Regions from separate parts of the Homo sapiens genome. Here region 2 is linked to region 1. Evidence: fine-mapped QTL for protein levels in blood plasma. A gene starts in region 1. The other region holds a variant in brackets. All regions are shown on one strand. Distances are from middle to middle. Region 1 holds the start of PVALB (parvalbumin). Region 2 holds the start of NCF4 (neutrophil cytosolic factor 4).

What was found. A credible set is the group of variants that fine-mapping cannot tell apart. PIP is the chance, under the fine-mapping model, that this variant and not a neighbour inherited with it causes the effect. The UK Biobank Pharma Proteomics Project read protein levels with antibody pairs (Olink). The fine-mapping took linkage between variants from a reference panel, not from the people measured, so its PIPs are less certain.
Region 2: its variant is the best candidate, but not a certain one, in a credible set for the plasma level of the PVALB protein (UK Biobank, PIP 0.77).

Annotation. Positions count from the first base shown.
Region 1 is chr22:36,814,147-36,819,511 of GRCh38, reverse strand. PVALB (parvalbumin) reads left to right here and starts at 2,477. Exons shown (of 4, transcript NM_001315532.2): 1 at 2,477-2,567; 2 at 4,277-4,409. The coding sequence starts at 2,507.
Region 2 is chr22:36,858,652-36,864,016 of GRCh38, reverse strand. It overlaps NCF4 (neutrophil cytosolic factor 4), which reads right to left and starts at 3,011. Exons shown (of 10, transcript NM_000631.5): 1 at 2,814-3,011. The coding sequence starts at 2,845. All of the region lies in intron 1 of NCF4-AS1 (NCF4 antisense RNA 1), which reads left to right. The variant C/T (reference allele first, on the strand shown) is at 2,882.

The DNA of each region.
Region 1 (5,365 bases):
ACCTCCAGGCTCACTTCCCGACAGGACTTCCCACCAGCCCAGCCTTTCAGTGCAGGCTCCAGCCCTCCACCCCCACCCGAGGTGAGTGGCAGCTACCGAGGTTGGAGGATAGAGGGATGCAGCAGGATGAGCCAGCTGGAAGGGAGAGCTACATCTCCCCTGTCCGTAGTGACCCGGGGAGGGGGGTGCGGTGGGGGTGCTGGAGGCAGGGCAGCTGTGGAATGTAGGGCTGAGAGCATGCATTCCTGCTTCTCCACCCAGACTCCTGGTGTGGCCTGGGGCAAACTCCCCCCACCCACCGCCCCCCGTGGCTGGGCCTCAGATTCCCCAGCCTTAGAACGAGAGGGCTGGAGTCAGACATCTGTGGACTCTGGTGATGCCATCAGAGAGGACCCAGAGGGCAGAGGAGGACTACCCAGGGCTGATGGGCTGACCTAATGACATTGATGCTCTGGCTGGGAGGGCTCAGTCCCGGAGGGGGTGTCAAGTTGATAGGAGAACTCAGCAGCAGGGAGAGATGGAGGAAGGAGATGGAAGAAGAGTGGGCCCCTGTTGAGGCTGCAGCCTTTGCCACAGGGTAGCTGCTTAGGGGCTCACCAGGAGCCAGTGTGTGGCTGAGATGTATGGGACCTGATAGAGCTGGGTCCCAGGCACCAGGGAGGATCACCCAGAGAGTCACTGAACTCCACACGAGTGAGTCCAGGGGTGTACCCTGCTCTGCTATTGCTTTACCATGTGTCCTTAGACCATTCACGGACTCTGTGCCTCCGTTTCTCCACTGGTATAGCTGAAGCGTCCTTCAGCTGGGGAAATCCATTCTCCAACTAGGCTCCTGGAGTGAGCTGAGCCTGGGAGTTGAAATGATAGCATAGGAGCCTGGCATATCTGAGTCAGCAGCCCAGCTGGGGACAAGGTGCAGAGGTGACGGCAGTAGCAGCAGGGTCCAGGGCAGCTGAGGGGTCCTGGGAAGTCCTGGAGCTGAGAGGCATCAGGTCAGGAGCTGCATCCTTGGTGCCTTGGAAGCCATCTGGCGGGCTGTGGCTTGAAGGAGCTGACTCACAGGGAGGGGGCAGCTGGAGCCAGCAGAGGTATCCTAAGGTTTCCAGGAAGGGCAGCCATCCAGGGCTGAGCTGCAGGAGACAATGTTGACAGCGATGTCAGGGAACTTGAGTTACTGGGCAGCTGGACAGCTGCTCTCCCTGGTCCCCACCACCCAGGGCCACCACAGCCCAAGGCCCTGCCTACCTGCCAATACCTTAAGTTGCAGTCCCCAGGTCCCACTACATGGGACCACTGACGTCATCAACACATCAGAAGGAGACAGAAGCCCAGAGAAGGTCACAACCCAAGGTCACACTGGGACTTAGTGCAGCCCAGGATCTAGAACCCAGGCCTCCTGACTCCCTGTCCAGCGCTCACACACTCTAGAAGCAGCTGGTTGCAGCTTGAAACCTTGGGAACCATGGGGAAGAACACAACGGGTCTCTGGCTGCATACAGATAGGCACCGTGACATTTTTCCAGAGGTGAAGTTCAGACCCCTACACCTGCTTAGGTTGTCTAGAAAGTGTGGTCTGAAGGTGCTACCCTTCTTCCAAACACATATGGGGCTTTCTGGGAGGGAGCATAGCAATTCCAAGCGGACTCTCCCACCCTACTCTGCCCAAAAAAGGTTTATAGGAGTAGGGGGAGTCTGGACCCATGATGCCAGGACCCAGGAGACCAGGAAAGCAAGTAGTTAGTAGAGATCTGAGAAGTGTTCTTCGAAAAATCAAGCCAGCAAAAAAATAAAAAATAAAAGTAAAACATCAAATCAGGTTTTAGAATATGCATCCCTGGCCAGATGTGGGATGGGGCACCCGAAGTGGGCCCCAGCAGCTCCTGCCTGTCCCTGTCCCTGTCCCTGCCACCTCCTCCCTGCGTCGGGTGGGTCAGGTTTCAGGACCTCAGCGCTCAGATTTTGCAGCATAAATTTGCATCCAGGACAGACCAGAGCAGAGGCTGAGGTAGGAGTGGAGAGAGAAAGGGAGCAGGGCCTAGGAGGTCCTGAGGTGCAGGCTGGCCGCTGAAGGTTCAGGATCTTCCCCCACGCGGCAGGACATCCGCCAAGGTTCCCAGATCTGAGACGGCGCACCTCCTGCGTGTCCTTGACGGCAGGTGGACTTTCCAGACCCAGCTGGTGACGCCAGTGCCCCCTAAATCCCAGAGGTGGCCCCTTCCCTCGTGCCCTGGCCGCAGCCCCTGGGATCCCGCGGACCCCTGGCCTGGCGGTGCAGGAGTGGTAGCAGGTCCGCGCGCCTTCTTGCCGGCGGCCGGCGCTGCTCAGCGGCGCGGCTGGACTGAGCCGCTCCCGCTGCGCTCAGAGTCCGGGCCCCTGGCGCCATGCCAGGCCCGGCGGGCGTGCGCCCGGCGCGCAGCACTGCAGCGCTGGTCATATGAGCAGAAATGATGAGAAAAGCACTTTTTAATCTTTTCGCACTTGCTCTGCCCGCTCAAACAGTTGCAGGATGTCGATGACAGACTTGCTGAACGCTGAGGACATCAAGAAGGCGGTGGGAGCCTTTAGCGGTGAGCAAGCGCGCTCCCCTCCCCATCCCTCTCCCCTCGTCCACCGCCCGCGCCCCTGCACTCCGCCGGCCCCGCAGCCGGCGGATCCTCCCCAGCGCGCTTCTGCCCACACTTCCCGCTGGGCGCCGGCGAGGTCGGGGCGGGGGCGTCCTTGGCAGTTCCCAAACTCTGTCCGGGCGAGGCTTGGCGCGGGGAGCGGGCGGGGAAGAGGGCGCCCCGCCTAAGTTACAGAAACTTGAGGGTGCTGAAGGCCCGGTGGCTGGGAGGACTCAGGGTCCGGGACCAAGGGCGAAGACCAGGGTCGGAGGAGAGACCTCCAGGGTCCTTGTACGAGCTCTCTGGACGTCCTCTTTAAGGCACTTAGAGGGGACTGCAGGGGGCATCCTCCTCTCCAAGAGACCCCTTTCCTGGACCCTCATTCTGGACAGGACTTTTCCCGCCAGGCGGTAGCCTTTGTTGGCCCCCTGACTGTCCTAGTTCCTTTACTGAGATTCAGCAACGGACCTGCGGGCGAGGTGACCTTCTGGAGCCGGCGCACAGCTCTGCCTAAGCCCGCACGGGGCATCCTCAGTGCCTCAAACCTCCAGCCTCCTTAGGCGGGCAGGGGAGGGGAACTGGCAGTCTCACCTCTCCCAGCTGCCCGGGACTTCAGCGCTAAGCTGCCCGCCTTCCTCCTCCCCTGTCCTCCAGATGGGGAAATCAGGGAACTGTCTTGGAGAGGACAAGACATTTGCCCAAGGTCACCTAGCTGGGCAGAAGGGGTATTAGAACTGGGTTGCCCAGCCTAGTGTCGGAGGTGGACAGGGCAACTTTCCTTGTCTCTAGCCCTGTGCTGAGGGGAAGAGAACATGACTTCAACAGCCATTCCCTACACACACACACACACACACACACACACAAAATACATGATCTAACATTGTACCCTTCCCCAGGTGTTCTAAAACAGGACCCCAAGATACAGAAAATTGCAGGTAGAAAAGGACCCCCATTTCCTTTCTGCTTTGCACCCCCTCCCCTGGGCACAAGAACCTCTCTGGGAAGCCACCCTCCCAGGGTCCTGGGATAACCCTCTCCCTTCACCTCAAGCCCATGTGGGAAGAAACTTAACTGGGTGTTTCTCGGGAGCCTCCTAACACCCCCTTCCCACTGCCTCCGAAGTGGATTTCTGCGCAGAGCCAGGACTTCCGGGTTTGCCCCTCCTCCTCCCACTGTATGACCTTGAGGGAAACCTGTCCTTTCTATGTCAATTTTCTGGCAACAAAGTCTGTGGCCAAGAAAGAAGGTCAACCCTCCTCCCCCTAACCCCAGGACCATGTTCATGCCCCCTTCAATTCCCCAGCCCACTCCCAACCAGCTGGCACTCAAAAGTCTTCCTGGGCACAAGGTTCTCAGAAGAACAAAAGCCTTTGGTTCTTAGGTGCTGCTCCCATCATCAGCAATGGGTGCAGTGGAGGTGGGGCGTGGGGGCGGGCTTGAGAGCCAGGGAGGTCTGGGTTTGAGCACACCTCTTCCACTCCCAGCCTTGTGACCTTGGACAGGTTATCCTCCCTTGCCCGGGCTCCCTCAGCCCTCCAATGGAGGTGGGTACCTCTCATTCCCCATGACTGGCATGTGGGAATCCATCAACAAATGCCTTGATGCCCCCCATTCTCCCAGGCTTCCCTACCAGCCTTTCTGGTCCTTGTTTGACCCTGCTCTTCCCCCCACAGCTACCGACTCCTTCGACCACAAAAAGTTCTTCCAAATGGTCGGCCTGAAGAAAAAGAGTGCGGATGATGTGAAGAAGGTGTTTCACATGCTGGACAAGGACAAAAGTGGCTTCATCGAGGAGGATGAGCTGGGGTAAGCGGAGGCCTGCAGGGGCTGCCCAGCCCACGGCTGCACGAGAGGGAGTGGGGGCTGGGACTCTAGCTTCCAAGTGTCCATCAGACCTGCCTTTCACTCTGCCTGCTTCACAGAAAGTAACCGTGCGTGAAGGCAGGGCTCCGACCCAGGGCACCAGGGGAGAAGGCTTCCTGGTGCTATTGCTTCGGAAGAGTAAAACCCTCAGCTGAAAGTGCAACTAACTAGGTTAAATGATAGCCACTTAATATTGCTAATGGAATGTTGCTACTTAATAATTTAATGCAAATGAAGAGGCAGTTTTCTTGCTGCCTAACACCATAGGCAGGGCAGAAAGCATTCACTTGAGTATTTCATTGATTTTCATTTGTCTAAAAGACACTTTCCACCTTCCTGCAGCCCCCAGCCCTCTGGTACTAGTGTGGCTGGTGCAATTTCTAGGCAAGCCAGGGATGCAGAACCACCTCTGAGAGTCCAGGGGTCCTTGGAGAAAAGCAGAGAAGGAGAAGGCTGTGGCTAGGAAAATGCATGCCTCCATCTGCAAAAGCATCTCCCACCATAATTCCCTCAGCCACCCGGCCATGTCTACTGACTCAGGTTGCCTTATGTCACTTTCTGGCCAAGAAAGCCTTGAGTTTTGTCAAAAAGAGAAGCGGGGGGTGGGTGTAGGGAGAGGCCTTTCAAGTAGGGACTTCCCCACCCATCCTGTCTCTCCCCTAAACCATCTCACAAGGGTACCTTCTGTCTAGAATCTTCACGTTCTACCCACTTACATCCAACATGCATGCACACTTATGCACACACACACACACACACACACACACACACACACACTCACAGAGGCTGACTTCCCCCTGTCCTCCAGGTATCACCTTCACCAGGAAGCCTCCCCTCTCCTCCCCTCACCGCAGGTGGGCAGATACAGCTTCTGAGTGCCCTCCTCCACGGCCCATCAC
Region 2 (5,365 bases), 45 kb before region 1:
GCTTATCACCCTGATGTGTTTTGTGGGCCCACCGGGTATGAGGTAGAGTGCAAAGCAAACTAATGTTGTGAAGCCAACATTCGTCTCTCAGCACCCCTTCCCAGGCCAGGTCCAGCCACTGACCCTGGGAATACGGAGATAACAAGACACAGCCCAGGCCTTGAGTGCAGGAATGGGAAGCTGGCGGCCATACTGAGTGCAGGAATGGGAAGCTGGTGGCCATATTGAGTGTAGGAATGGGAAGCTGGTGACCATATAGCAATAGCCAAATTATAGTCTAACACATTGCTGTCAATTGCACAGATTCACCTGGGAATAAGGCATCAAACATCTCCATACCAGGCCCTGTCCTAGGCCCTGGGTCACAGATGTAAACAAAGTCAACATGTGCCCTGGATGGAGCTGCTCAGTTCAGGGAACCGCAGGTTGCTGAGCATGGCTGGAGCACAGAGCAGGAGGTGGAACGTGATGAGAGACCAGTCGGAGAGACAGGCAGGGCCCGCTCACGAGGTGCCTTGATGCCTCGCAGAGGGACCTCGAGTTTTCCCTGGGGTGGTGGGGGCTGAGGAAGGAGTCAAGCAGGACAGACATTGGCAGATGCTCGAGGCATAGGCGCAGCACTGGGGACAAGAAGATCAAGCTCCCTTGGGAAGATTCCTAGCTGTGCTCCGCTCCTTCCCTCCTCTGTAAAATGGGGACAGGAGAAGTACTTATGTCTCCGGGTGGTCATGCAGTCCCATCTGTAACAAACACAGCCCTAAAATCTCCATGAGGGCAAGGACTCTGCTCACCCTACATCCCAGTGCCCAGAACAGAGCCCGGCATACAGTAGGTGCTCAGTACTGCTCAATACACGGCCACTACCGTCGTCTGCAATTATAGAGTTTTTTGATGGGCAGCATGAGAATGGCCTGGCTGCCTGTGGGGCGGGCAAGAAGAGCAGCAAACCCAACCGGAAGTCCCCTGGAATATCCGCTCCCTTGGGGACCTCACCCAGGCCCTACTGGGCCGGGATGTTCTGGCTCAAGACACACTCGCACAGTTCACAGACTTTGGAGCCTGGCCTGGGGGAGGTTTTGGAGCCTGCCCTGGGGGAGGCCGAGGTTGGAAGAACCCTTGGAGGGCAGCCAGGGCAGGTTTTCTGGCACCTGGCACATAGTAGGTGCTCAAAACATGTCTGTTGGAACCGAACTTGCCACCCCTAAGGCAGCCCTCCCCATCTTTGGATGTCTCACCTTGGGGTTCTAGAAAGTCCCCGCTGCGCGAACCTGCGCCCTCTCCTTGTACTCTCTGCTTTGACCTTAAGCAGAACAATCCAGGCTCGCTTTCAGATAAGACCTTCGAGGTACAGGGAGCCCCCATGCCCCTAGTACCTGGCTCAAGGCCTCATGAAAAGCAGTCCCTCCCCCTCTGAGGGCTAAGGCAGCTGAAAGGGGACAGGGAGTGGGGGAGGGAGTGCACAGTCCTGCTGGTCAGCTCTCCGTGTCATCCCCTGAACCCTGTACCCCAGAAAGCAGGAAGTGCCCAAGCCTCAAACAGCTGCTGCTTCCGGAAGATTCGAGTTTGCGTGCGGCTGGGTCCCCCAGGAGCATGTGAGGGGAGGAAGGAATTCAGGTCGGCCAGCCTTACCCAGCTCCTGCACCCCGCTCTGAGGCTCAGGAAGGCCACGTGGACTCCCCTGTAGGCATTTGCTTCTGCTGCCCTTGCCCCAACCCACGCTTCAGGTTCTACTTCCAGCCCCAGGCCCCAACATGGGCCTTCTGTTCCCCGCGTAGGCACACACCAGCCTGGCCTGTCTCTGGTGACCCCCTGAGTGGCCTCCACGTAGGTAACAGAGGTCACCTGCTGTTCCAATCCAGGGGGTGCAGGGGCCAGGCTTTGCGTCCTCAGGGCCCCCGCAGCTTAGAGCTCAGACCTGGCTACTGAGGAAAAATTCTGAAAATGCTTCCCAAGCGACGAGGCTAGATGCTGGTGAGGCCGTGCTCCAAGCCCCAACCTTGCCAGTCACTCTCTGTGACCCTGAGTAAGTCTCTTATCCTCCCTGGGCCTCAGATTTCCAATCTGTACAATGGCAAGGTTGGACTAGAAGAATCTAAGACCTTTTCCGTCTCAAAGATCCACCCATTCATTCATTCATTTATTCATTCATTCAGCAACATTTATTGAGCCCTTGGTCCTGGTGCTCAATAGGGATGAGCTACCTCCTAGTGATACAGCAGCGATCAAAACGGACACAGCCTCGTGGAGCTTGCTTCTCATGGGGGAGCCAACGTTCAAGAAAAAATAATAAATGAGCATATAATATTATTCCTGTAATATAAGAACCAGGCAGAAAAGGGAAATAGGGCAAAGGGTCAGACAGCAATGAGGTAGGGGCTGTCAGGAAGGCTTCTTGGAGGAGGTGACATTTGAGGCAAGCCCTGATTAGCGGAAGAACAAGCCAGATTCTGTGAATTCTGTTTGCGCAGAAGATGGAAAGTCATTGCTGATCACCATGTGAAGCAAAGGGCCCCAGCCTGGGACCCAGGACACCTGCATTCCTCTCCAGACACTGCCGGTCACTCGTTGTGTGACCGTGGGCAAGTCACTCCCACTCTTGGAGCCTCAGTGTTCTCATTTGTGTCTGAGGGTGGTGAGCCACAGCTCAAAGTTTCGTTAAAGCAGTTCTGAGAGGTTGCATTTCTGAGTATTTGGGTTCTGACTCAACCCCAGCCTCTCATGTTGATCAGGGACTGCAGAAGGACTGGCCTTTGTCCCTAAGGCCTATGAGGAGCAGTGAGAAGGCCCGGGGGCGGCCACACCCCGGCACTCACCTCTCGGCCCGCAGCTGCTGGGCCACAGCCATGGTGGGCGATGGTCCCAGGGAGCAGGTGGAGAGTCT[C/T]GCCCAGCCAGTCCCAGGCTGAGTTCACCTCTCACTTCCTCCAGCCACCCTGCGTCTCGTCTCAGCCTGTGGTCCTGGGAGTCCCCAGGAGCTGCCTTTGGGGAGGCTCAGGCCTGCTTCTCTCCAGTCTGGCAGAGGCTCCTCCTCCAGGCTCTCTGGGCCTAGCCTGTGGCCCACACTTCCTCTTACCTCACCTCCCAGCTGCACAGAAATTGAGGAAGTGGACCCTCGGGTGCCAGGTTTGCAGGAATCCACTTCCTTGATGTCAGTCCTTGGCGCCAAGCCTCAGTTGGGTATCAGAAGCCTTGCTCCATCAGAGATGGGGTCCCAGCCATCAGGGTGTCTTGTGACCTTGAGGAGTCACTTATCCTCTGGCCCATCAAGCCCCACCTTTATTCTCTTACTGCCAAGCCTTTGCCCAAACTCTTCCCCAGGCCTAGAATGCTGGCCTCCATTTTCCTGTGATCTCTTAGGCCCAGAGTAAATGCCACCTCCTCCAGGAAGCCCTCCTGGTTCCTCTGGCCTCTGTCTTCCTAGAGTGTGAAGTTTGGTTTGCGCGCCCTGGCACTCTGGGATATCCTTTCCTCATCCTTAGATCTCCATGCCCAGCCAATCCTCTTTCACAGGGCTGCCAATCAGAGTGAGTTTCACCCTCCCTGCTTAAACTCTCCTGCCCCATCACCCTGTGCTCAGGATAAAGTCCAGAGTCCTTGCCCTGCCTGCCTCCAATGCCCCTGAGGCCCTGCAGCCTTCCCCAGCCTCTGCTCCTGAGCTCCCTTTTTCTCACTGGCCTCCTTTCCGTTTCTAGAATGTTCTAAGACGTCCGCCCCAAGGCCTATGCTCATGGTGTTCCCTCTGCTGGAAAAAGCTCTTCACTGCCTCCTTTGCATCTCAGCTTAGAAGCTACATCTTTAGCGAGGCCTTCCCTGACCACACACCCTAAATTAAGGCCCTCCCTACTACATTCTCTCACAGGTCCCTGCACGTCTACTGCAGAGCACTCATAACTATTGTCATCTCACATTTGTTTGTTTATCTGTATGTTTAATGACTGCCTCCTTGGCTAGCAGCGTGCCTGGCACATTGCAAGTGCTCAACCAATATTCAGTGAATGAATGAAACGCTGCCAGTCAGTGACTGCAGCTCCTAACAGGTATGGGTATTTGATTCTGAAGGGACTTCTCTGAGAAGAGGTCCACAGGAGTCATTGGCACAGCCACACCCAGTAACTCCCTGCCAGCTACACACGCTCACACACTCGTATTCATACATGCAGAGCAGAAAGTTGTTTTAAACTACTTTAAACATACAAGTCCCAGCTAAAAAAAACAAGAAAGCATAATTTTTAGGTAGGATCAAAGAGAGGGGTCAGGAATCTATACCAGGGGGAGAGGAACGTGGCCAACAGCCCATGGGAAAACCAAGATTGGATATGCATTGTTGGGCTGAGATTTTAATGCCAAATCTGGGACTAGGTACAGGCCACAGGTCCTGCTGTTAGCAGAAAGTCAAATCTGAGTTCTCAGTGTAAAGTGGGTGTCAGAACTGATTATGGGAACAGAGTTTCTCAGCCATCAGCCTAGAGTCACGGCAGGAGCTGAGGTCCTCTCACAGTCCATGGGTGGAACAAGGGACGTGTGTACCAGATCAGCCTCAAGCCTGCCCTCTGCACTGGTGTAAGGCCCCGATATAAGCTACCCACGTGGTGCAGAAATCCTAAGCTGAGGCATTATATAAAAACAGCTTGGAGTCAGTGACTCTGCAGGGCCTACTCTGTCAACTCACAGACCAAAACTACAAATCGTGAGCTGTGAAAGACAGCTCAGAGCCTCCACATCATGAAGAATTCACACCCAAAGAACTAGAAATAATACAAACAATAAGTCTGATGAGTTGCTGGTGTCTCGGGGCTCCCAGGCTAGAGGATGAAATGAAACACAGAGCAGGGTTATTAGTGCAGGTGTCTGTAAGTACCAACAGGTGCAAGCACACAGCCATAACTGAGGGAAGAGGAGGACATTGGCCTACAGTTGGTCAGGAAGGACAGGAAGTGGCAAAACAATTTTAGCAAGCAAGCATGATACAGAATTTGTAGGTGATTGTGTAAACTGTGTGTGTAGTATATGCCTATAGTTGGAAACACATATTTGTGTATAAACACATACAGCTCGCATAGGCAAGTGTAAGTGCATTTGTGTTGTGTCTATAAAAGACCATATAATGTGTATAGTGGTGGCATTGTGGCTGTGAGAGAATGTGTTTAGATGTTTAGGTTGCAGTCGGTGACAAATGAGTATAAACACAAGTACATTTATAATAGGTGAACTCAGGCAAGATAACATGTCCTTTTTGAACCTTTCTTCTTCACCAATCTGTGAAACAGTCTTGCCTAATGGAGTTGTAGTAGGAATTAATAGAAAACTGTATAAAAGTGCCTAGACACATGGACATTTCTTATTCCTTTTTTAATCGTTTTCAGTGTGT